Linked DNA regions of Homo sapiens: region 1 is linked to region 2. Evidence: fine-mapped expression QTL. A gene starts in region 2. The other region holds a variant in brackets. All regions are shown on one strand. Distances are between the middles of the regions.

What was found. PIP is the estimated chance that this variant, and not a neighbour inherited with it, causes the effect.
Region 1: its variant is the best candidate, but not a certain one, in a credible set for the expression of QRICH2 in thyroid (GTEx, PIP 0.65).

The regions. Positions count from the first base shown.
Region 1 is chr17:76,327,982-76,339,746 of GRCh38, forward strand. It overlaps PRPSAP1 (phosphoribosyl pyrophosphate synthetase associated protein 1), which reads right to left. Exons shown (of 10, transcript NM_002766.3): 4 at 4,282-4,454; 5 at 2,570-2,685; 6 at 2,062-2,117; 7 at 736-881. It also overlaps the pseudogene RNU6-24P. Among named protein-coding and RNA genes, the nearest start is that of PRPSAP1, 20 kb to the right of the region's middle. The variant G/A (reference allele first, on the strand shown) is at 5,993.
Region 2 is chr17:76,304,665-76,316,413 of GRCh38, forward strand. QRICH2 (glutamine rich 2) reads right to left here and starts at 3,612. Exons shown (of 19, transcript NM_001388453.1): 1 at 2,801-3,612; 2 at 218-277. The coding sequence starts at 3,334. PRPSAP1 (phosphoribosyl pyrophosphate synthetase associated protein 1) reads right to left here. Exons shown (of 10, transcript NM_002766.3): 8 at 9,157-9,227; 9 at 8,206-8,352; 10 at 4,814-7,036. The coding sequence ends at 6,878.

The DNA of each region.
Region 1 (11,765 bases), 23 kb after region 2:
AAAACCAGCCTGGGCAATGCAGGGAGCCCCGTCTCCATACAAAAAGAAAAAAAAAGGAACAGAAAACTATCCAGGCATGGTAGTGTACCCCTACAGTCCCAGCTACCCAGGAGGCGGAGGTGGGAGAATCACTTGCGCCCCGGTCAAGGCTGCAGTGAGCCATGACTGTGCCACTGTACAGAGCAACAGGGGGAGATCCTTTCTCAAAAAAAAAAAAAAAAAGGCGGAGGATAGCAAATACCATTCCATTATTAAAAAACAACAAGACAGCATATATCTACATAGTCGATAACTCCTAGCCATTCATACTACTTAAAACTTTCTTCAGGGCCAGGTGCAGTGGCTCATGCCTGTAATCCCAGCACTCTGGGAGGCTGAGGCGAGCAGATCACCAGGTCTGGAGCAGATCACGAGGTCTGGAGTTTGAGACCAGCCTGGCCAACATGGTGAAACCCTGTCTCTACTAAAAATACAAAAATTAGCTGGGCGTGGTGGCACACACCTGTAATCTTTGCCACTCACGAGGCTGAGGCAGGAGAATTGCTTGAACCCAGGAGGCAGAGGTTGCAGTCAGCCAAGATCACGCCACTGCACTCTAGCCTGGGTGACAGAGTGAGACTCCATCTCAAAAACAAAACAAAACAAAACAAAACAACAACAACAAAACCAACAAAACCAACAAAAAAAAACTTTCTTCAATTTACAAATAAAATAAAAACACAGAGCTCATCTTACATGGCAACTCCAGGCCTGGGTGCACAGTAGCATTTTTGACCATAGGCGGGGAGTGACGACCATCGTCCATGTCCAGTTCCGTGCACTGAGCTTCCCCGTGAATGACGGCCAAACCCAGACGCAGTCTCTCCGCATAGGACTGGGCCCTAGAAGGACAAAGGGAAATGGTGAAACTGACAGGAAGAAATCCCACGCATCACTACGGCATCATTTTTTAACCATAAAATGAAAATATTTAACGTTTCAGGGACATACAAAGGCATTATTTATATAAATGAGAATGTGAGGCCCAGGCCAGCATGTAAATGACTCAAAGGGCACGTGAGTTAGGGTTTGGGATTGTATCTGATTCTAGACATTTTTTTTTTTTTTTGAGACAAGGTCTCACTGTCACCCAGGCTGGAGTGCAGTGGCGTCAACATGGCTCACTGCAGCCTCAACCTCCTGAGGCTCAGGTGATCCTCCCACCTCAACCTCCCGAGTAGCGGGGACCACAGGCATGTGTTGCCACAACTGGCTATTTTTTGTATTTTGTAGAGACGGGGTCTATGTTGCCCAGGCTGGTCTTGAACCCCTGGGCTCAAGCGATCTCCCGCTTTGGCCTCCCAAAGTGCTGGAATTACAGGCGTGAGCCACCCCGCCTGGCCCTGATTCTAGATAATTTTGATTCTATCCTTTGTCCAATATTCTGATAGTCATCTTCAGAAGAAAGAACAACGTTAAAAACCATTGCCTGGGCCGGGCACAGTGGCTTACGCCTGTAAACCCAGCACTTTGGGAGACCAAGGCAGACAGATCACTTGAGGTCAGGAGTTCAAGACTAGTCTGATGAACATGGTGAAACCCCATCTCTACTAAAAATACAAAAAACTAGCCAGGAGTGGTGACAGGCGCCTGTAATCCCAGCTACTGGGGAGGCTGAGGCAGGAGAGCTGCTTGAACCCAGGAGGCGGAGGTTGCAGTGAGCCGAGATCGCGCCATTGCACTCCAGCCTAGGTGACAGAATGAAACTCCATTTCAAAAAAAAAACAAAAAAAAAAACCATTGCTTGAAAAATGCTCATAGCCTCATTGCTTTCCTTTCTCTGAGAACTTGAAGGAACTTTGTTTTCCCAGAGGAAAGCTGAGCAACTCAGCGATCATGTGTGCTGTCTGGAGGCTGGAGATAAAGCTGTGTGTGGCATGGGACATGACAACGATGGAGGGGTTAACATGAGAGCCAGTGGGCTTTCAAAGGCCACGAGTGACAGCCTCTGGATTCCAAAGCAGCTCATTCTGACTTCGGGAGCACTCAGGAGGGATCAGGACCCATGTCTAGCTTACTTACCTCTTTGCAGCATCAGGAGACTTAGCTACAATGACTGCATTTCTGTAATTTGGAATCTAGATTTGAAGGAAAAATAGAAAATACTGAAAAGTTATCAGAAAATAACACCTGGATGCTGGTATTCAAGTTTTCCCTCTTATAATGATCCAAACTAGTCATCAAATATGCTAGAATTTTAGTCACAAGTTTTAGATTTTTCAATATTTATCAATTAACATCACTGGAAAAAGCACTCCTACGTCAAGAATTTTTTAAAAATAATTCTTAAAACATTCATTTTAGAAAACATAAGCAAATTGCTAAAGATACGTAGAAAAAAAATCTGTTTTTAGTGTCTTTTAAAGCTATGATCGTCCACGACTAAAGCTGACCCTGTCTGCTGCCTCAGGCATTGTGACTTAAGGGAGAGCTCATTTGATGTGCCTTCCAGTAACGAAATCTGATACCAGAGAAAAACTAAATAAGATCTCTTTTGAGGACAATGGGGTGTTTGCTGGTGGTTCCTCACTTCTTCCTGGATATACTGAAGCAGGAAAGGTGAGGCTCTAAGGTTGTCCACAGGAAAGCTGAAAAAGCCTTGTATTTCCTTTTGATGAAGATCCATAGTGATAATGTGAGTTAAACCTGAAATTTTAAAACAAAAAATTACAAAGTTCACCCCTACAGGTAAATGGCTACAGTGGACCTAAACTAGATGCTCAACTCCTGCTTCCTACCAGCAGACTGAAGACGGGGTACTGTGATTAAGCACTGCAGTCACAGGCTTGATTGTTAACCTTAATAAAGCCTTAATGTAGAGAAGGCTACAACCTTCCACATGGACAAAGAACTAAAGCTAAGAAAGTGGGAATTATTGACTTTTGGCTTGGTCCAGAAAATTGAGAAAAGAATAATGTGGCAGAAGCAAAAATATGAATATGGAATTAATACCGAAGAGATGGAAAAAACAGTAAGGCCTTGATTACAGAATCTTAAAAGAAAGGATAAAGAACTGTAGCGAAGGCAAAAAGTAGCAAGAACACAAACGCAAAGTAATATACATATTAGAAGAAAAGAAACTCATATAACACAAAGATATTGAAGCTTAGAATAATTTCTGTATGTAACAAAGAATGTTTCAAGTATTCTTATAGAAAAACAATGAAGAGATACTCTTATAATCAAGAGTACTGAAGAGGAAAAGGTACATATATATAAACACATTGCAAATGGTCAAAGGTCACAGCAAAACTTCCAGGGTGTAGAACCAGTATTACTTGTTCTTTCCAGAAACACTATAGTTTTTTGGAGAGGATGAAATTCACATACAGTTGACCATCTGGATCTATGGGTTCCACGTGTGGATTCAACGAAACACAGACTGAAAAGGTAGTTAGGCCTACAATGGTTGTGTCTGTACTGAGCAGGTATGAAACTTTTTTCTCATCATTATTCCCTAAACAAGACAGCATAACAACAATTTATATAGTGTTTATATGGTATTAGGTATTTATAAATAATCTACAGATGACTGTGTTGGTTATATGCAAATACTATGGCATTTTATATGGAAGACTTGAGTATCTTTGGGTTTTTGTATCTGCTGAGGAGCCGGGGAAGCGGGAGATGGGTTCCTGGAACCAATCCTATAAGGACATTGAGGGAGGACCATACATTTCTTTCCGAGGACCCAAATATACGTTAAAGTTTTAGAACAGACATCAGATGAATAGAAACCCAATTGTAAAATATTACATTGATTTACAGGCCAGAAAGCGTGCCCCCGCCACACAAGGAGAATAAAGCAATGAAAATGAGCCACTATGTAGAAAGGCAAGGGTGGGGGAGAGGGAGTAAAAGAAAATCCAGCTTGAATACTATGAACAAAAATGGAATTTAGCTAACAAAGCAGATATAGAAATCTAGACCTGAAGATCAAAAGATCACATAAGAATGCCAAGACTGCCAGCTAAGAATTTAGCGATGACAAGATGAAATAGAAAATATGTGACAGATGACAGAGAAGAGAAGACACTAAAGCAATGGTATTCTAAAGTAGGACAAAGCGAATAAGGGAAAAAAAAGAATTTCTAACCGAGCTCACATATCCTTAGCCAAAACTGTTCAAAAGGAAACAAACACTCAGATCCCAGATTGGATATCTGAGGTATGAGCTAAGTCCAACTAGGAAAGAGCCCTAAAGGATCATGCTGGAACCCCAGGGCCCCCGCGCACACTCACCTGCTTTCGCCAGCATGGATGCTAGCAGCTTGCACACAATGGAACCCCTCTTCCTCATCTTGCTCTGCTTGCTGTAGGGGAAGTAGGGGATGACCCCAATAATGTTCCTGGCACAGGCAGTCTTCAGTGCGTAAGCCATGATGAGCAACTCCATCACAGCTGTATTCACATCTCTGAAACAGTCAAAGTTTGTATTTGGGGATTAATTCCATGTATCAACCCTAGAAAAGATCTTGACTTTATCAACTTAACATGGGCTGCCCAGATGGGTGTTGTGGGAATTTTACCATCACACTAGCTTACAATGGCACCTCATGAAGGCAGGGGAAGCTTTCTGACTTTTTGTAGCTGAGTAAGCCCTAGCTTTCATCTGAGGTTACTCCTATTCACAGCACAGTTAACCCACCCTCACATTTGCCTGGGTCTCCTGTGTCATACCCCGTTACTGCAGTGACATCTGAAGCAACTGCTGGTGACCAGAGTTACCCAACACCTGCTGGCAGCCTCCCAGGGATTTGGGCTTAGGCCAGCTTGAATGCCAAGGGAAACCCAACTGCCCTTCCATTTAGCTGCCATTAACAGAAAGATTTGGTCTCTTTCCATTGAGTGTGGGGAGGTCTTGGAATATAATTTTTTTTTTTTTTTTTTGAGACGGAGTCTCGCTGTCGCCCAGGTTGGAGTGCAGTGGCGCGATCTCAGCTCACTGCAGGCTCCGCCCCCCGAGGTTCACGCCATTCTCCTGCCTCAGCCTCCCGAGTAGCTGGGACTACAGGCGCCCGCCACCTCGCCCGGCTAATTTTTTGTATTTTTAGTAGAGACGGGGTTTCACCATGTTAGCCAGGATGGTCTTCATCTCCTGACCTTTTGAGATGAAGTCTCACTCTGTCGCCCAGGCTGGACTGCAGTGGTGTGATCTCAGTTCACTGCAACCTCCGCCTCCCAGGTTCAGGCAATTCTCCTGGCTCATCCTCCCGAGTAACTGGGATTATAGGCGTGCACCACCACACGTGGCTAATTTTGTATTTTTAGTAGAAACGGGGTTTCTCCATGTTGGTCAGGCTGGTCTCGAACTCCCGACCTTAGGTGATCCGCCCACCTCGGCCTCCCAAAGTGCTGGGATTACAGGCATGACCCACTATACCCAGCTGGAACTTAATTTTCGAAAACCTCCCTGGAGGCTGGACGCAGCCCAGCCAATATGGTGAAACCTTGTCTCTACTAAAAATACAAAAATTAGCCAGGTGTGGTGGCACGTGCCTGTAGTCCCAGCTACTGGGGAGGCTGAGGCAGGAGAATCTCTTGAACCTGGGAGGCAGAGGTTGCAGTGAGCCGAGATCATGCCACTGCACTCCAGCCTGGGCAACAGAGTGAGGCTCTGTCTCAAAAAACAAAACAAAACAAAACAAACAAAAAAAAACCTCCCTGGACCTTTCTTTCCCTGACATATAAATTCCTGACAAAGATTACCCAGAGAGACAAAAAATGAAATATGAATCTGGAAGATATTAGAAGGAAAGGCAATTTCCAATGATTATAAATTTGGATTGCTAGCTTTTGCCAAGGATAATCAAACCTAATGTAGACTCTGCATTCATTCATTCATTCATTCATTCTTTCTTTCACTTACTCACTCACTCACTTATTAAGAAATGGTCTCACCCTGTCACCCAGGCTAGAGTGCAGTGGTACAATCTTAGCTCACTGCAGCCTC[G/A]AACTCCCGGGCTCAAGTGATGCTCCCGCCTCAGCCTATCAAAGCACTGGGATTACAGGCATGCGCCACCATTCCCAGACAGGCTCTTCCTTTAAAAAGGGGTGAGAGCCTTGAAATCCTTCCAGGACCTCTCTCAGTATTCACTTCTCACATTAGCTTCCTCCTGCTCTTCCTGGACTATCCACGCATCCTCAAACATCCCCGTCTTGGGGTGGGGGTGGGGGTCAGGACTGTATCTCCCTTCCCTTCCCCACGTCATCAGTTCCTACCCATGGCAGCAGGTTCTTCAGGTACCAGTTCTTGAACAATTATCAGCTCTACACTGACACGTAGGTGATGCTGCCCTCATTACAGCAAAGCAGAAAGCCTGCCATACACACAGCAGAGTTAGCGTTTGCTGAATAGGTGGCTGAATGAAATACTCAGCAAGAGATGCTTTCTAGCTTGAAGGGTAATCGAGCCATTTCCTTCCAGTCTCTTCCAATTTATGTTTACACTTCTCTCTAAGGCAGAGTGCATTTGGGAGTGAGCGATTTCAAAGACATCCTTTTATTCTGACAATGTTTTCCACTTCCAGGTTCAATTCCTGGAACTTCCAATTTCACCCTTGTAATTTGGATTTTTCTTAACTATTGCAAGCATTCTATGATTAAAAAAAACAAAAACAAAAACAAAAAATGTCTCCCTGAGGAGACTGATGCAGGGCTCAACTTCAAGACAACTAAGACATTCCTTTTAGACTGCTAATCCATTCCATTGTTTTCCAGTTACCTTTTATTTTTTCTCTCAATAAATTGGAGCATTTTTCTCCTTCAGACTTCCAAATTAATAATGCCAAGTCTGGCATCAAAAGGTCAGATAATCTTTGGTAGAATCAAAGCAATTATCAAACACTTTCAAGAAAGTTGGGAATTCATAATAGTCAATTTTAGTTCATCATCCATGCAACACATATTTAGGGGGCAACTTGAGGCAAGCACTGTGGTAGGTAAACAAGGCAAACCACCTCTAGAGAAAGCCAAAGGCCATCTGGGACCACTCTCGAGGTACTCATTCTTCCCAAGAAGGAGCACATCTGACTCATGGAAGAATGTGTGGTCCCCTTCCCAGAGACTCTTTTGTTTAAAAGATTTTTTTTCTTTTCTTTTCTGTTTTGTAAGAGGCAGGGTCTCACTATGTTGCCATGGCTGGTCTTGAACTCCTGGGTTCATGCAATCTTCCCATCTCAGCCTCCCAAAGTGCTGGGATTACAGGCATGAGCCACCACACCCAGGCTGGCTGTGGCTTCATAAACCAGAACCCAATATCCACAATATGTTTGGAGTCAGTTAATTTAGTAGCTTCTGTAAGCGTTATCTGTTCAAGTAGTGAGGTTTTTTTTGTTTTTTGTTTTGTTTTGGAGATGGAAATTCGTTTTTGTCACCCAGGCTGGAGTGTAATGGTGCGATCTCAGCTCACTGCAACCTCTGCCTCCTGGGTTCAAGCAATTCTCCTGCCTCAGCCTCTCAAGTAGCGGGGATTACAGGCACCCACCACCATGCCCAGCTAATTTTTGTATTTTTAGTAGAGATGGGGTTTCACCATGTTGGCCAGGCTGGTCTTAACTCCTGACCTCAGGTGATCCAACCGCCTCGGCCTCCCAAAGTGTGTTGGGATTACAGGTGTGAGCCACCACACCCAGGCTCAAGTAGTGGGTTTTTAGCTGGCTTTGTCATAGACAATACACAAGTGGACCAAGTGCAGTAGTTTATGCTTGTAATCCCAGCACTTTGAGAGGCCAAGGCAGGAGTATTGCTTGAAGCCAGGAGTTTGATACCAGCCTGGGCAACATAGCAAGACCTGGTCTCTAAAAATAAAATAAAATTTAAAAATCAGCCAGGCACGGTGGTGCTCACCTGTAGTCCTAGCTATTCGGGAGGCTGAGGTGGGAGGATCCCTCAAACCCATATAATGAGCTGTGACTGCACCACTGCACTCCAACCTGGGCAACAGAGTGAGACCCCATCTCTCAAAAAACACACAAAAAAATAAAAACAAAATCAAGTAAAATACACAAGTGTATGACACCATGAGTTTTGGAGAACACAGCACAAGGGAGGCCCAGATAATAAAACATTAATGAACAAGATAAACAATTTTTGAGAAGTCTTGATTTCAGGGTAACATTCCTTTCATTAATAAGCAATTTCTGGGCCGGACGCGGTGGCTCACGCCAGTAATCCGAGAGGCCAAGACAGGTGGATCACCTGAGGTCAGGAGTTAGAGACCAGCCTAACCAACATGGTGAAAGCCCGTCTCTACTAAAAATTCAAAACTTAGCCGGGCATGGTTGCAGGTGCCTGTAATCCCAGCTACTTGGGAGGCTGAGGCAGAAGAATTGCTTGAACCTGGGAGGCAGAGGTTGTAGTGAGCCGACATCATACCACTGCACTCCAGCTTGGGCTACAGAGCGAGAATCTTTCTCAAAAAAAAAAAAAGGCCAGGCACGGTGGCTCACACCTGTAATCCCAGCACTTTGGGAGGCCGAGGCAGGTGGATTACCTGGGTCGGGAGTTCGAGACCAGCCTGACCAACATGGAGAAACCCCCGTCTCAACTAAAAATACAAAATTAGCCAGGCATGGTGGTGCATGCCTGTAATCCCAGTTACTCAGGAGGCTGAGGCAGGAGAATAGCTTGAACCTGGGAGGTGGAGGTTGTGGTGAGCCGAGATCATGCCATTGCACTCCAGCCTGGGCAACAAGAGTGAAACTCCATCTCAAAAAAAAAAAAAAAAAAAAAAAAAGAGCAATTTCCCATGAGGTTTTTATTTTCCATTTTTCCAAGGGATTCAACATCCTCCAGCCCAACGCTAAAGAAAGCTCCATACCTCACCCCTTATTGGTCAGAAAGGTGACAAAAGGGGCTTTGTCACATTGGCTTTACCCATTCACTGAGAGATACCGGACAAATTGGACACCAGGCAGTTACTTTGTGAACTAGCAGGGCGAAGGGAAATCGGCTGGCAGTCTCTGCTTTATCTGTTCCCTAAGAATGTTGCAAGTACACCCTGGCTAGCTCTTGTAGTCTTTATCTCTAAGTAGGACATTCTTAATTGTTTTACCAACTACTTTTCTTTCTTTTTTTTAAATAGAGAAAGGTCTCACCATGTTGCCCAGCTGGTCTTGTACTCCTGGGCTCAGGCAATCCTCCCGCCTTGGCCTCCCAAAGTGCTGGGAGTACAGCTTGAGCCATCATGCCCAGACAACCAACTACTTTTCTTTCCCCTAAGAAAACCACATCCTATATTAAGTCCAGCCCTTACTGCTCTAGCATTTTGGACAGGCAAAAACTAACCTGAGGTGTGCTCTCTTCAGCAGCACATATACTAAAATTGGAATGATACAGAGAAGATTAGCATGGCCCCTGTGCAAGGATGACACGCAAATTCGTGAAGTGTTCCATATTGGAAAACAACAACAACAACAACAACAACAAACTAACCTGAGATGAGGAAACAGGCATGGTATACGCATTCATTAAACTAGCCAGGCTCGCAAAAAGAGAAACCACACCACAGCTGGAAGTAATGGGGGAGAATTTACCCTGCTCCCAACTGTAACAATTAATCATCTGCAGCAGCTGGGAATTTTTTGTTGTTGTTTTGAGACTGAGTCACTCTGTCACCCAGGCTGGAAGGCGAGAGTGCAGTAGCACCATCTTGGCTCACTGCAACCTCTGCCTTCCGGGTTCAATCGATTCTCCCACCTCAGCCTTCCGAATATCTGGGATTACAGGCACCTGCCACCATGCCTGGTTAATTTTTTGTATTTTTAGTAGAGACGGGGTTTCACCATGTTGGCTAGTCTGGTCTCAAACTCCTGACCAACTGATCCACCTGCCTCGGCCTCCCAAAGTGCTGGGATTACAGGTGTGAGCCACCGTGCCCAGCTGTAAATGTTATTTTAATGAGTCTGCTTACTTTACATCAACACACTAGAACTTGTACATAAACATAAAAATTAACCTTTAAAATATACTTCATAAGCTTCATATTTTACTTAGTTCCATTGCTTGGTATATCTGGAAAATCTCTGAGTATCGCACAGTTCAATTACCCAAAATAATCATTTTGTTCTGAATGGCTTTTTGCCATTTCCAAAAATTAAACCTATCCTCAACGACCAAAAGGTTGCTATTATTAGAACAGTCAAAAGAAATATGCTGCAAGTTTGGAAGCAGTAGTTCCAAAGCTATTCCAAGCAAAAACAGCACCAAAAAAAGGTATCTATGTGATTTTAGAACAACAGCTCTGAAGGCAACTAAGCTTATTTTAATGTCTAAGCTTTGGTCTGTTTGCCTAAAATTAGCCTTATTACTTTAGGCAATGCCCCCTTCCTCCCAACAACAGAAAAACCTGTAAAAGATATTCCTTCATCTATGTAACCGCAGATAATATTAAAAAACCAGGTCGGGCACAGTGGCTCATGCCTGTAATCCTAACATTCTGGGAGGCTGAGGCAGGTGAATCACCTAAGGTCAGGAGTTCGAGACCAGCCTAGGCAACATGGAGAAACCCCATCTCTACTAAAAATACAAAAATTAGCTGGGTGTGGTGGTGTGCACCTGTAATCCCAGCTACTCAGGAAGCTGAGACAGGAGAATTGCTTGAACCCAGGAGGCAGAAGTTGCAGTAAGCCGAGATTGTGCCACTGCACTCCAACCTGGGCAACACAGCAAGACTCCGTCTCAAAAAATAAATAAAATAAAATATAAAATATAAAATAAAATAAAAAATTAGGCCAGGCATGGTGGCTCATGCCTGTAATCCCAGGACTTTGGGAGGCCGAGGTGGATGGATCACCTGAGGTCAGGGGTTCAAAACCAGCCTGGCCAACATGGTAAAACCCCATCTCTACTAAAAATACAAAATTAGCCAGGCATGGTGGTACATGCCAGTAATCCCAGCTACTCGGGAGGCTCAGGCAGGAGAATCACTTGAACCTGGAAAGTGGAGGTTGCAGTGAGCCAAGGTCACACCACTGCACTCCAGCCTGGGCAACAAGAAAGAAACTCGTCTCAAAAAAAAAATTAAATTAAATTAAATTATCTGTGTTCTTTAGTTGGTACTAAAGTATCCAGTACTCAAGCACTACAAAAACTAGTTTATTGACTGGGCACGGTGGCTCACGTCTATAATCTCAGCACTTTGGGAGGCCAAGGCGGGTGGATCACCTGAGGTCAGGAGTTTGAGACCATTCTGGTCAACACTGTGAAACCCCGTCTCTACTAAAAATACAAAAATCAGCTGGCTGTGGTGGCACACGCCTATAATCCCAGCTACTCAGGAGGCTGAGGCAGGAGAATTGCTTGAACCTGGGAGGCAGAGGTTGCAGTGAGCCGAGATCACGCCACTGCACTCCAGCCTGGGCAACACAGCAAGCCTCCGTCTCAAAAAAACAACAAAAAGAACCAGTTTATTGTGACAAACCTAATAACCTTCTTTATGGGCTGCACACCCACACAAAACAACACATCCAACCTGTCTTTTTTCCAAATTTTTCCTTTCTTCTTCCATCCCTATCAGCTTAAGAGACAGAGAAAATGCCAGGTGATGATATTTTTGCTTTGATGCTCTTAAACTGAACCACTGGGAAGAGACTTGCGGCTTTTATCTCAACACCAAATACACATAAAGAAACTTCACCATCTTCAGGAGAGGGTTCTGGTTTTCAGAAGTACCCATTTATACCTATGTGCCTTTTTCAACAGGGAAGGTGCCTTTCCATGTTGAC
Region 2 (11,749 bases):
CAGTGAAGGTTGGGCAGCCAGTTATCTGTCCCATGTGAGCACCCAGCAGAGCGCTGGGCAGGGCTGGGGCAGATTTCCCTCCAACCCTGGGGCAGAGACTTGAGAGGCAGAGGGCACACACTGCCTGCCCTGGATGGACAAGCCCTGGAGAGAGGGCCACACTGAGAGACGGCCAGCCCCCTGGAGAGCCCTTTCCCATGGAACTGGCTGGTATTACCAGGAATTGCTCCCGATCTTTGAATAGCTTCTCTAGTTCATCAACCCGCTGTAAAAGTACCTGGAAGAAGAGTTCAGGAAAGGAGAATGACAGTGGCCCCTACACACGCACACTCACATGCACACACACACAGATGCGCACACACACTCTCACACTCAGACACACACATGCATACACGCACATTCACACACTGACTCAGTGCCAGGAGACGAGGAAAGGGGGAATTTGTGTGGCTCTTATGGAAAGGGAGGGTTTCTTCTTCTACTTGGGTTTTTTTGGTTTCCTTTTTTTTTTTTTTTTGAGACAGGGTCTTGCTCTGTCACCCAAGCTGCAGTGCAGTGATGCCACCACAGCTCACTGCAGCCTCAACCTCTCAGGCTCAAGCGATCCTCCCACCTCAGCCTCCTGAGTAGCTGGGACTTCAGGCATGCACCACCACATCCAGCTAATTTTAAACATTTTTTTGTAGAGATAAGATCTTGCAATGTTGCCCAGGCTGGTCTTGAACTCCTGGGTCCGAGCAATCCTCCAGCCTCGGCCTCCCACAGTGCTGAGATTACAGGCAGGAGCCCCTGCTTTCTACCTGGTTTTTACCTGGCCAGTCAGCCCAGGCTCCTGGGTCTTTTCCCAGCCAAGTGCAGGAAGGGAAGTGAGATGCAGTGGGGGACCTGGCTGGTAGCATGGCAGGAGTAAGTGCTGCTGCAGGGATGGGACCCTTTGGTCCTGGGATTCAGTTTGCTCCAACCCACTTGTGAAAGCCTGTAGGATGAGGCCCACCTTGCCTTACAAGGAAGGAAGGGTGCCAGGTACCTCAACAGTAGCTGAACATCTGTGCTATCTAAAGAGAAAAGCACCTCAAAAGAACCAAAGCAAATCGCTACAACATAAGGTGCTATCATATTTGGGATTAAGAAAAAATATATTAATAAACAAAAATAAAACAAGTTACTTTTTATAACTTTTGCAAACTTCTAGAATCTAAGATTACGTAAAAATTAAAACAAAAGGCCAGGCGCAGTGGCTCTTGCCTGTAATCCCAACACTTTGGGAAGCCGAGGCAGGAGGATCACTTTAGGTCAGGAGTTCGAGACCAGCCTGGCCAACACGGCAAAACCCCATCTCTACTAAAAGTACAAAAGTTAGCTGGGCATGGTGGTGTGCACCTATAATCCTAGCTACTCGGGAAGCCGAGGCAGGAGAATTCCTTGAACCCAGGAGATGGAGTTGCAGTGAGCCGACAATGCACCACTGCACTCCAGCCTGGGTGACAGAGTGAGAATGTGTCTCAAAAAAAAAAAAAAAAAAAAAAAAACCCAAAAAAATTAAAACAAAAAAAACCCCCACCACACTTTAAAGTTTGAAAAGGAAAGCAGACATGCTTCCCAGAGCAAAAGTGAGTTGGTGCTGCGGTCTCGAGACCTGGGGTGATATGGCAGGAGGGCATGAGCGGCCAGGGCTCCCCTGCTGGGGCTTGGCCTCTTCTTCCTGCCTCTTCCCGGCCTCTTTTTCCCCTCCTGTCTCTCCTCTTGGCCTCCCCACCCAGCTGCCTTCCTAGTTGCTTCTGCTTTTTCTTTCAGAACCAACCTAAGGTGGCTCTGAGACATGCACGTGTCTATTACCTCCTGGCGCTGACCTGCGTTGCTTCCTGCTGTTCACTGGACAATACTTATACTCAATGATTACATGCATTTGTCCCTCCAAGAAAACAAAAGTCCAGTTGAAGGCAGGGCTCAGTGGCTCACGCCTGTAATGCCCAGCACTTTGGGAGGCCGAGGCGGGCAGATCACTTGAGGTCAGGAGTTTGAGACCAGCCCCGCCAACATGGTGAAACTCCTTCTCTACTAAAAACACAAATATTAGCCAGGCGGGGTGGCGCGCGCCTATAATCCCAGCTACTCGGGAGGCTGAGGCAGGAGAATCGCTTGAGTCTGGGAGGCGGAAGTTGCAGTGAGCCGAGACTGCACCACTGCATTTCAGCCTGGGTGATAGAGTGAGACTCCTTCTCAAAAAAAAAAAAAGTCCAAGTGAAACGGTCCCCTGCCTGCTGTGGCTTGTGTCATGGCCATAGGAAGCTGAGGTCCAACTCTCCATCCTGACTCCCCTTCTCTGGGAGCCTTTGTCCTCAACACGTATCTCTTCATGTCCTTATTCATTTTAAAAAGGGAATTCACTCTAAGAATCTTCTGAGAAGTTGCCGGCCCCACTCTGAGCCAGCTCTGGGTCCTTGGATGTCTGATAAGTGGTGGGCGAACCTCTCCCGTAAACAGGGGCTAGGAAGGAGGGGGTGGGATGGGGCCACTACACTTAGGAGGTGGGGTCCCCAGGCCCCTCCAGCTCGGGGAGGCCCTAGGCCTTTTGGTGGCGTTCTTTTAGGATTTTCACGTCTTGCAGCCCCGTGGACTGCAAGGTAGAGCATGGGCCACTCTATTTAGCCAGTCGCACTGAGGTCTGGCACCTCCTCGGTCCCCATCCCCTCCGTCCCCACCACCGCTCACCCCTCCAGGGTGGTGGGGACTCGGCTAGGCCTGGAGGGCGGCCTGGAGGAGGCAGACGGCCTGCGCGTGCCTCCGTGTGCGTGCTCACCCTGGCAAAGCTGAGCTCCTCGGCGGCGTCCTTCATGATACTCCCAGTCCGCACCCTATCGAACGCCCGCACGCCCACCTCCTGCTCCTCCGGCCACTCTAGCGCGGCCAGGTCAAGCCCGCTGGCCTGGGAGAAGTGCTGCACGTGCGTGGCGATGCCCTGCACCTGGCCGTCCACACGCTTGAGCTGCTTGCTCAGGTCCTCCACCTGGCCGCCCAGGTCCTTCACTTGGCTCTCCAGCGCTGACGAAGGCGCCTGGCCCACGCCCCTGCGCTTCTCCCGGGGCGCCCCCTTGGGCACCTCCTTGGGCGCGGGCAGGTGCGGGATGCTGAACGAGCTCCGGACGGACTGCAGCGAGCGGCTGGGCTCGGGCGACGAGGGCTGGAAGTCGATCCGGGTATTTTGGAGGTCGAGGTTCTTGAGCATGGCCACGATGAGCGTGTGCAGGGCCGTGAAGTTGACGGCGCCCACCTCTGGCGTGCCGATGGAGAGGTCCGCCAGCTCCCGGAGGGAGACCGTGGTCGCGGGCGGCATCGTGGCTGTCAGGAGCTGTGCGCCGCCGCGGGGCGCCGGCCAACCACTTCCCGCTCACTGCACGCCGCGCCTTGGGGCCTTTCGGGGGCCCTGCGAGGTCCTCGGGGCGCCCCTGCCCCGGGTCCGGCCGAGTCACTGGACAGAGCTCCTGCCTCCAGGGAATCTGCGCCTCCGCTCCCCGGCGGGGTCCGCGATGGCCACCCCTCCGCTGTCTGTCGCTGGCCTCGGGTCCCCGAGCTGGAGCCCTGGACTCCCAGTCCCCGCGCCGGCGGACGTTTGAAACGTGGGGGCCCCCGCGTGCCCTGAAGATTCCACGTAACAACACGCCTCCCTGCGAGCCACGGGGGCGGGGGGAAGTAAAGGCCACCACAAGGATCACAAGGGGAGCCTTGGCAACGGGCTGAGGAGGCCTCCTAAGATCCAGCTAGACTCCATCCATCCCCTTAACCTAGAAAGGCCAGGATTCACTCACTCTTGGCGGGGCCACATAAGGAAAGACTTGAGGGTTTCCTGGCAACCATGCTTTGTGTCATCAGCTGCGTCCATTCCAGAGTGGTGGCCCCATGTCTATGGCCCCATGTCTAAGGGATGCAGTCCTGGGGCCCTGGTCCCCTCAGACAGTCCACATATTTTGTTCAATCAAAGGTGAAGCAACTTGGAAAAGACAACCCACTCACTATTCAGGCAGTTCCAATTAGCCACTAGATGACTAACTGGTGGCTAATTGTCCCTTTTCTGTGCTGCCATAATTTTTTTTTTACTTTTGAGAGGGAGTCTTGCTCTGTCGCCCAGGCTGTAGTGCAATGGCACGATCTCGGCTCACTGCAACCTCTGCCTCCCGGGTTGACATGATTCTCCTGCCTCAGCCTCCCGAGTAGCTGGGATTACAGATGCGTGGTACCATGCCCGGCTAATTTTTTGTATTTTTAGCAGAGACGGGGTTTCACTATGTTGGCCAGGCTGGTCTTGAACTCCCGACCTCAAGTGATCGACCCACCTCGGCCTCCCAAAGTGCTGGGATTACAGGTGTAAGCCACCGCGCCCAGCCTGCCATAAATTAATTGATCTCAAAAAAACGGCCAGGCTTGGTGGCTCACACCTGTAATCCCAGCACTTTGGGAGGCCGAGGCGGGTGGATCACCTGAGGTAAGGGGTTCAAGGCCAGCCTAGCCAACATAGTGAAACCCCTCTGCTAAAAATACAAAAAATTAGCCGGGCATGGTACCGCGCATCTGTAATCCCAGCTACTCGGGAGGCTGAGGCAGGAGAATCGCGTCAACCCGGGAGGCAGAGGTTGCAGTGAGCCAAGATCGCACCACTGCACCCCAGCCTGGGCGACAGTGCAAGACTCTGTCTCAAAAAAAAAAAAAAAGAAAAGAAAAGAAACCACTCACCTGGTCAAGCGCCTGTGCTTGAGCTCATTACAAAGCAGGATTAAACAGCACGAGACAAATCTGGTGTTAACAATTGAGACATGACTTCCCCATACAAGATTCTTCCCAAAAACGTATAAATAAAACTTCCTAACAGAAGCACAGCAAGGCTACTTAAAGAGAACCTATGAATGTGTGCCATGCATGGCCAGCCTCCTCCGTGAGCTCTGCATCTGCAGATTTAACCAACCACGACTGAACACGTACAGATTCCTGTCATGATTCTCTAAATAATACAGCATGACCACCATCTACACAGGATATTGCAGTAGGTATTACAAGTCATCCAGGATGTGCATAGCTTATATGCAGATACTACACCATTTTCTATCAGGGACTTGCACATCCATGGGCAGGAGGTTGAGTCCTGGAACCAATCACCCATGGATTGTAAGGAATAACTGTACTATTTTAACTACTGTTCAAGTTCAGATTTTTCACTTCAGCCTGAGAGGTACTGTTTATTTAATTGAAGGATTTTCGATCATCATTATATTCCAATAACTTGGGACACAGTAGGCCTTTAAGGGGTTATCAAAATAACTAGTTCTTTGCAGTCTTTTTTTTTTTTTGAGATGGAATCTTGCTCTGTCACTTGGGCTGGAGTGCAGTGGCACAATCTCAGCTCACTGCAATCTCTGCCTCTTGGGTTCAACCAATTAATTCTCCTGCCTCAGCCTCCCGAGTAGCTGGGATTACAGGCGTGCACCCCCTCCCCCAACACCCGGCTAATTTTTGTATTTTTAGTAGGGACAGGGTTTCACCATATTGGCCAGGCTGGTCTCAAACTCCTGACCTCAAGTGATCTGCCCACCTCGGCCTCCCAAAGTGCTGGGATTACAGGCGTGAGCCATGATGCCTGGCCTCTTTGTAGTCTTTTTATGCTTTTAACTTAGCTAGGCTAATTTTTGTATTTTTAGTAGAGACGGGGTTTTGCCATGTTGGCCAGGCTGGTCTCAAACTCCTGACCTCAGGTGATCTACCTGCCTCGGCCTCCCAAAGTGCAGGGATTACAGGCATAAGACACGATCCCTGGCCTGTTTTTTTTTTTTGAGACAGGGTGTTGCTCTGTCACCCAGGATGGATGGCAGTGGTACAATCATAGTTCACTGCAGCTTCAACCTCCTTGGCTCAGGCAATCCTCCCACCTCAGCCTCCCAAGGTAGCTGGAACTACAGGCACATGCTACCAATGCCTGGCTAATTTTTGTATTTTTTGTAGACATGGGGGTTTCGCCATGTTTCCCAGGCTGGTCTGAAACTCCTGGGCTCAAGCAATCCTCCTTGCCTCAGCCTCCCAAAGTACTCAGATTATAGGTGTGAGCCACCACACCTAGACTTTTTTTTTTTTTTTTTAAAGATTTAAAATACAGTATTCAACAAGGATTTAGCTTCAACACTTAGGAAGAGGGTGGAACCTGGGAAAGTGTTTGTGTCCAGCCACAGACCTGACTGCTGTTCTGTATCCATGGTCTTCTGCTGTCTAATGAAAAGACTAGCAAGACAACAAATTATTTTATTTGCAACTTCAGAGCCACTCAGATACCCAGAGGTGGGATGCTATTTTCTAATCTGACATCCTTGGAAGATGTAACAACATGAATGCTTCATTTTTCAATGGCTGTAGGCATAACAATTTCTGAAAGAAAAATACGATTCTCTATAAAAGACTTGAAGTTGATTTGGGAGAGGCCAACTGGATAGTAATAGGGCCACAGGCGCTCAGCTTCCCTAACCAGGTTCAACATCAATACCTCCATTTCCCTGGAGCTGAAACAACTAAATGAACATTATAGAGTTAAGACTTTATGTGCCTTTAACTCCTCTTTAGTATCAATAAGATTTTCAGATTATTTTTAAGAAAGCAGCTAGAACTTTTAAGGAACAGGGCTGATGACAGCAGACATGTAAGGCCATGTTATGATATTTATCCATTAGCTCTGTCTTCTTCCTGACTCTTTTAATCCCTCCTCCCCATCAATCCGGGCAAAAGAAGATATCTAACTCCAGGCTGTTTCGAGTCCTCCCTTGCAAGGAAACACTGTATCACTCATGGCACTGCTTTTTCCATGTTTCCCTCAGGAGGTCCAGGGTCGAGACCCTCGTGAAAGCTAGTCATCCACAGTGATGTTTCGGAAAAGGTAGGCCATGGACTCTCCATTGTGGATTCTCCGAATGGCTTCAGAAAGAATCAAACTGATATCCACAGTCTTTATCTTGGGACATTGCAGCTTCTGAACCTCATGAGGGACAGTATTCGTCACCACCACCTAGTCACACAGTGATGGAAAACAAACGCTGTTACTGAAGTCTGTTCTCCAAGCTGGTTACACAGAAAAGCTTATCTAACATTGAGTTCCCACAGCCTAAGTTCCAAACTACAAAACCTTGTTCCACCGAGTATAGTTTTTATAAACCAAAATTAACTAATTTTATGCAAAGGAAAAGTTACATGGCCTCAGAACACAAGACAAAAATCTTAGGAATGGCATGGTCTCCATGCAGAAACACAGTGAGCCCCAGTGCTATGCAAAACTCTCAGATCATAAGGGAAGAATTCCAGCCTCAAGAGAAATGCTCCTAGGGTGTCAAATTAAAGTACCCAAGCAAACCGTTATGCAAATAGACATATACAGACCCTCAACATAACTCTCAACTTATGACAGGGTTATGTCTGGATAAACGCATCATTATAAGTTGAAAATATTTTAAGTAGAAAATGCATTTAGGCCGGGCACAGTGGCTCATGCTTGTAATCCTAGCACTTTGGGAGGCCGAGGCAGGTGGATCACCTGAGGTCAGGAGTTTGAGACCAGCCTGGCCAACATGGTGAAACCCCGTTTCTAAGAAAAACACAAAAATTAGGCCTGGTGGCCGGCGCGTGTAATCCCAGTTACTTGGGAGACTGAGACAGGAGAATCGTTTGAACCCGGGAGGCAGAGGTTGCAGTGAGCCGAGATTGCCACACTGCACTCCCAGCCTAGGCAACAGAGCAAGATTCCATCTCAAAAAAAAAAAAAAGCATTTAATACGCCTAACCTACTAAACATCATTAACTTGGCCTAGCCCTACCTTAAACATGCCCAGAACAGTTACATTAGACTGCAGGTGGCAAAATCATCTAGGGCAAAGGCTTTCATTTTATAATAAAAGCGATTATTTTAAAATAAAGTGTCTCAAGTAATTTATCGAATACTATACATTACATCGTAATTGCAATGGTTTTGCATCATCATAAAGTCAAAAACTTCTAAGTTGAACCATGGTAAGTCGTGGACTATCTGTATTCCTAAACATGTATCTGTCCCAACGAACTGCTAGCCAGCAAAAGCTAGAAAAGCTATAGACAGATTAAGCAATTTAGTATTGACTGAATCATTTTATTATTCCCAGAAAACACAGCAGTAAATCTTGGCTCAAGATTTAGAAGCAGCCTGACCTCGTCTACGGAGGACTCCTCAATCAGGCGAGGGGCCTCTGCAGACAGGATGCCGTGGGTGGCCATAACATAGATCTTATAGGCGCCTCTCTCTTTCAGGATCTCCGCGGCAGCAACAAAACTCTCCACATCGTCAATAATGTCATCCTGGGAGGAGAACAGAGTGAGTTGGTAGGAAAGAAACACCCTCTAGCCCATACTGTCAATGCACACACCACTCTACTCTCTTCTGCACTCAGTTTCAGAGGATTTCTGATGGAAAATCAGAGCTGTGTGCCTGGGTCAAAGAACGAGCATCCAGAAATGGCAACAGAAGCACCTGACAGTACCTTGTGTGTCTGTCAGAGGCGGGCGCAGTCAAGCACCTGTGACATTACGGCTGGAGCTGAGGATTGCCAACACTCATTTTCCTGTCTCACGTTTCTGGTGAATCCCACATAGCCAGCGTTCCATTTATTTTTTTTTCAAATAGACTGTGACATGAGAAGAAAACTGAAATAAAGTGTGCTACTGCAAAGGACTCATGACCCACTAGCCAGCAGATATTTAGAGCTGGGAAAAAAAGTATGTCAACATGCAGAACGAGTCTGCACGGGGACACCCATTCTTACTTGTGAAAACGGAACAGCTCATCTTCAGTTCATCTTTCGGCCCTAACGCTCAAGCATGATTAGGTGAGCTGGTTTAAAGAACCTAGAATCCACATGATGAAGGTGAAGGTGCTGAATTTTCTCACGGGAGTACTGTGCTCATTTCCTATCTGTAGGTTATACTTTAATGTATGTTCACCTGGATACAGGTTTCTGCCACTTGGCACAAGGGAGTTTGGGTGAGAAAGGATACATGGATCCATTCGGATCATCGTTCCTAGAAATACAGTCCCAGAGTGGACAACCTACTGACCAAGAGCCAGGAGTGCCACCTCTGCACATGGATGACATATAACCATACCACGATGATTGCGATGCGGCCTCCAACATCTCCAACTACAGTTATCGGTGGCTTCTCTTTGGCCATCATCACTAGCAAAACAAAACAAATTACAAGATCTCAGTCATTCATGTATCACTAGAGAAATGTAATCACAACCTAATTCCCTGGAAATGGTGGCAAAACCACTATACAGACAAAAAACAAACAAACCATGCAAATTCCCCCTCAATGAACCTGCAATCTCTCAGAAACAGCAGCATTGGCCAAAAGAAATAGAAGGCATGCCATACATGTTACTTTGAATTTTCTAGTAGCCACATTAAAAACAGATGAAATTAATACATTTTATTTTATGCAATTCCCAAAATATTATAATTTCAACATGTAACTGATATAAAAATGTATGTATGTATGTATGTATGTATGTATTTTTTGAGACGGAGTTTTGCTCTTGTTGCCCAGGCTGGAGTGCAATGACGCGATCTTGGCTCACTGCAACCTCCGCCTCCCAGGTTCAAGCAATTCTGCCTCAGCCTCCCGAGTAGCTGGGATTATAGGCATGCGCCACCACACCCAGCTGAGTTTTGTATTTTTAGTAGAGATGGGGTTTCTCCACGTTGGTCAGGCTGGTCTCGAACTCCTGACCTCAGGTGATCCACCCGCCTCAGCCTCCCAAAGTGCTGGGATTACAAGCTTGAGCCACCACGCCCAACCTGATATAAAAATTAATGAGATGTTTTACACTTTTTTTTCTCAGAGGGGATCTTGCTATGTTGCCCCGGCTCATTTCAAACTGGAAGCAAACAATCCTCCTACCTCAGCCTCCCAAAGTGCTAGGATTATAGGCATGAGCCACCGCACCCAGCCTTACACTTTTTTCCTATCAAGTCTTCTCTACTTGGTGTGTGTTTTATACGCACAGCACTTCTCAGTTGAGACGGGCCGTGTCTCATGAGCTCAGCAGCCAGCACATTGCACTGCACAGCACAGCTGGAAAGACAACGAACCAGCAGAGCATGGAAGATTCTGCCAACACGGAGAAGCTGCACCGCAGTGCTGTGTGGATAGAAACCCCACTCTCACAGAGACTGACAGAGACATGCAGAAGGAATGCCGCTCTGCAGAAAGCGAAACAGCGAAAGGCTGCCAGATCATGAGATGGCTTTATGTTATTTTCTTCCAAAGTCACCTTATTTGGACAGTGTAACCTTACTATCAGATAACTGCACTACTGACATAATCAGAGTTTCCTCAAAATCAGGAACTTGAAGACAATAACTCCAGGCCCATCATCTTTTCCTGATTTAATTGGTGCTTAAAGTAGAGACTTTTATCTGACTGCAAAATCTGCATCTGAAGAAAGGCTATGAGTGTACAAAGGAAACTACAGGATAAAGAAAGGAAATAAGATTTTATCCTCAAAAGGAGGTTAGTAAACAGAGAAGAAAAACAAAGACTACTTCAGAAGAACAGGCTAAGTATTCTTTCTTTAAACTTTGTTATTATTCTGAAATATTTATTAGGCTAGTAGTGGGGGAAGCGAAAGAGAATAAAATTCAGGGTAACAAGAGTTTAGTGACTACCAACAAACAATTTTTGCAGATTCCCAACAGGCACTGTGTATCTCAAAGAACAGGTGTTTTTCTCTGTATACTGGCAAATCAGTTGAGCTGAAATTCACCACTACTTTATACATTTCAACAAACATATATTTCCTGATTTCACATCCTAGAAACAAAGACAACTTCTTGAATTTGGGCAAGACAAGAAGGCTTTGCATATAAAATCACTTAAAATGGGGGGAGGGGGGTTTCAAACCACCAACATTAGGAGCAGCTTCCTGAGATTCTGTTTTTAAATTAAACCATGTAAACACGCAGTTATGTTGACCTATCCGCTTTTTTTTTTTTTTTTTTTTTTTTTTTTTCTTGAGACAGAGTCTCACTCTGTCTCCCAGGCTGGAGTGCAGTGGCACGATCTCGGCTCACTGCAACCTCTGCCTCCTGGGCTCAAGCGATTCTCCTGCTTCAGCCTCCTAAGTAGCTGGGATTACAGGCACGTGCCACCACATCTGGCTAATTTTTTGTATTTTTAGCAGAGGTGGGGTTTCACCACGTTGGCCAGGCCACCTTTGAGAGGCCAAGGCAGGCGGATCACCTGAGGTCAGGAGTTCAAGACCAGCCTGGCCAACATGGTGAAACTCTGTCTCTACTAAAAATATAAAAATTAGCCAGGCATGGTGGCACACGCCTGTAATCCTAGCTACTCAGGAGACTGAAACAAGACTTGCTTGAACCCAGGAGGCAAAGGTTGCAGTGAATTGAGATCGCACCACTGCACACCAGCCTGGGCAACAGAGTGAGACTCCGTCTAAAAAAAAAAAAAAAAAGAAAAAAAAAAAGAAAGATTGCAAGCCAATACCTCTCATCAAATATCAATGGAAATTCAGCTCTAGTTTGATGCGGAAAACATCACAGTATATTTGTTTACTTTTTTGCAACCCTACCTCCCACAAAGAACTACTGTTAGTTTCGCATGAAAAACCTAGGCTCTGCTAGGAGGGAGGCTAAAAAAGGCTAAAATGAAAGCCTTTCTGCCCAATATACTCATT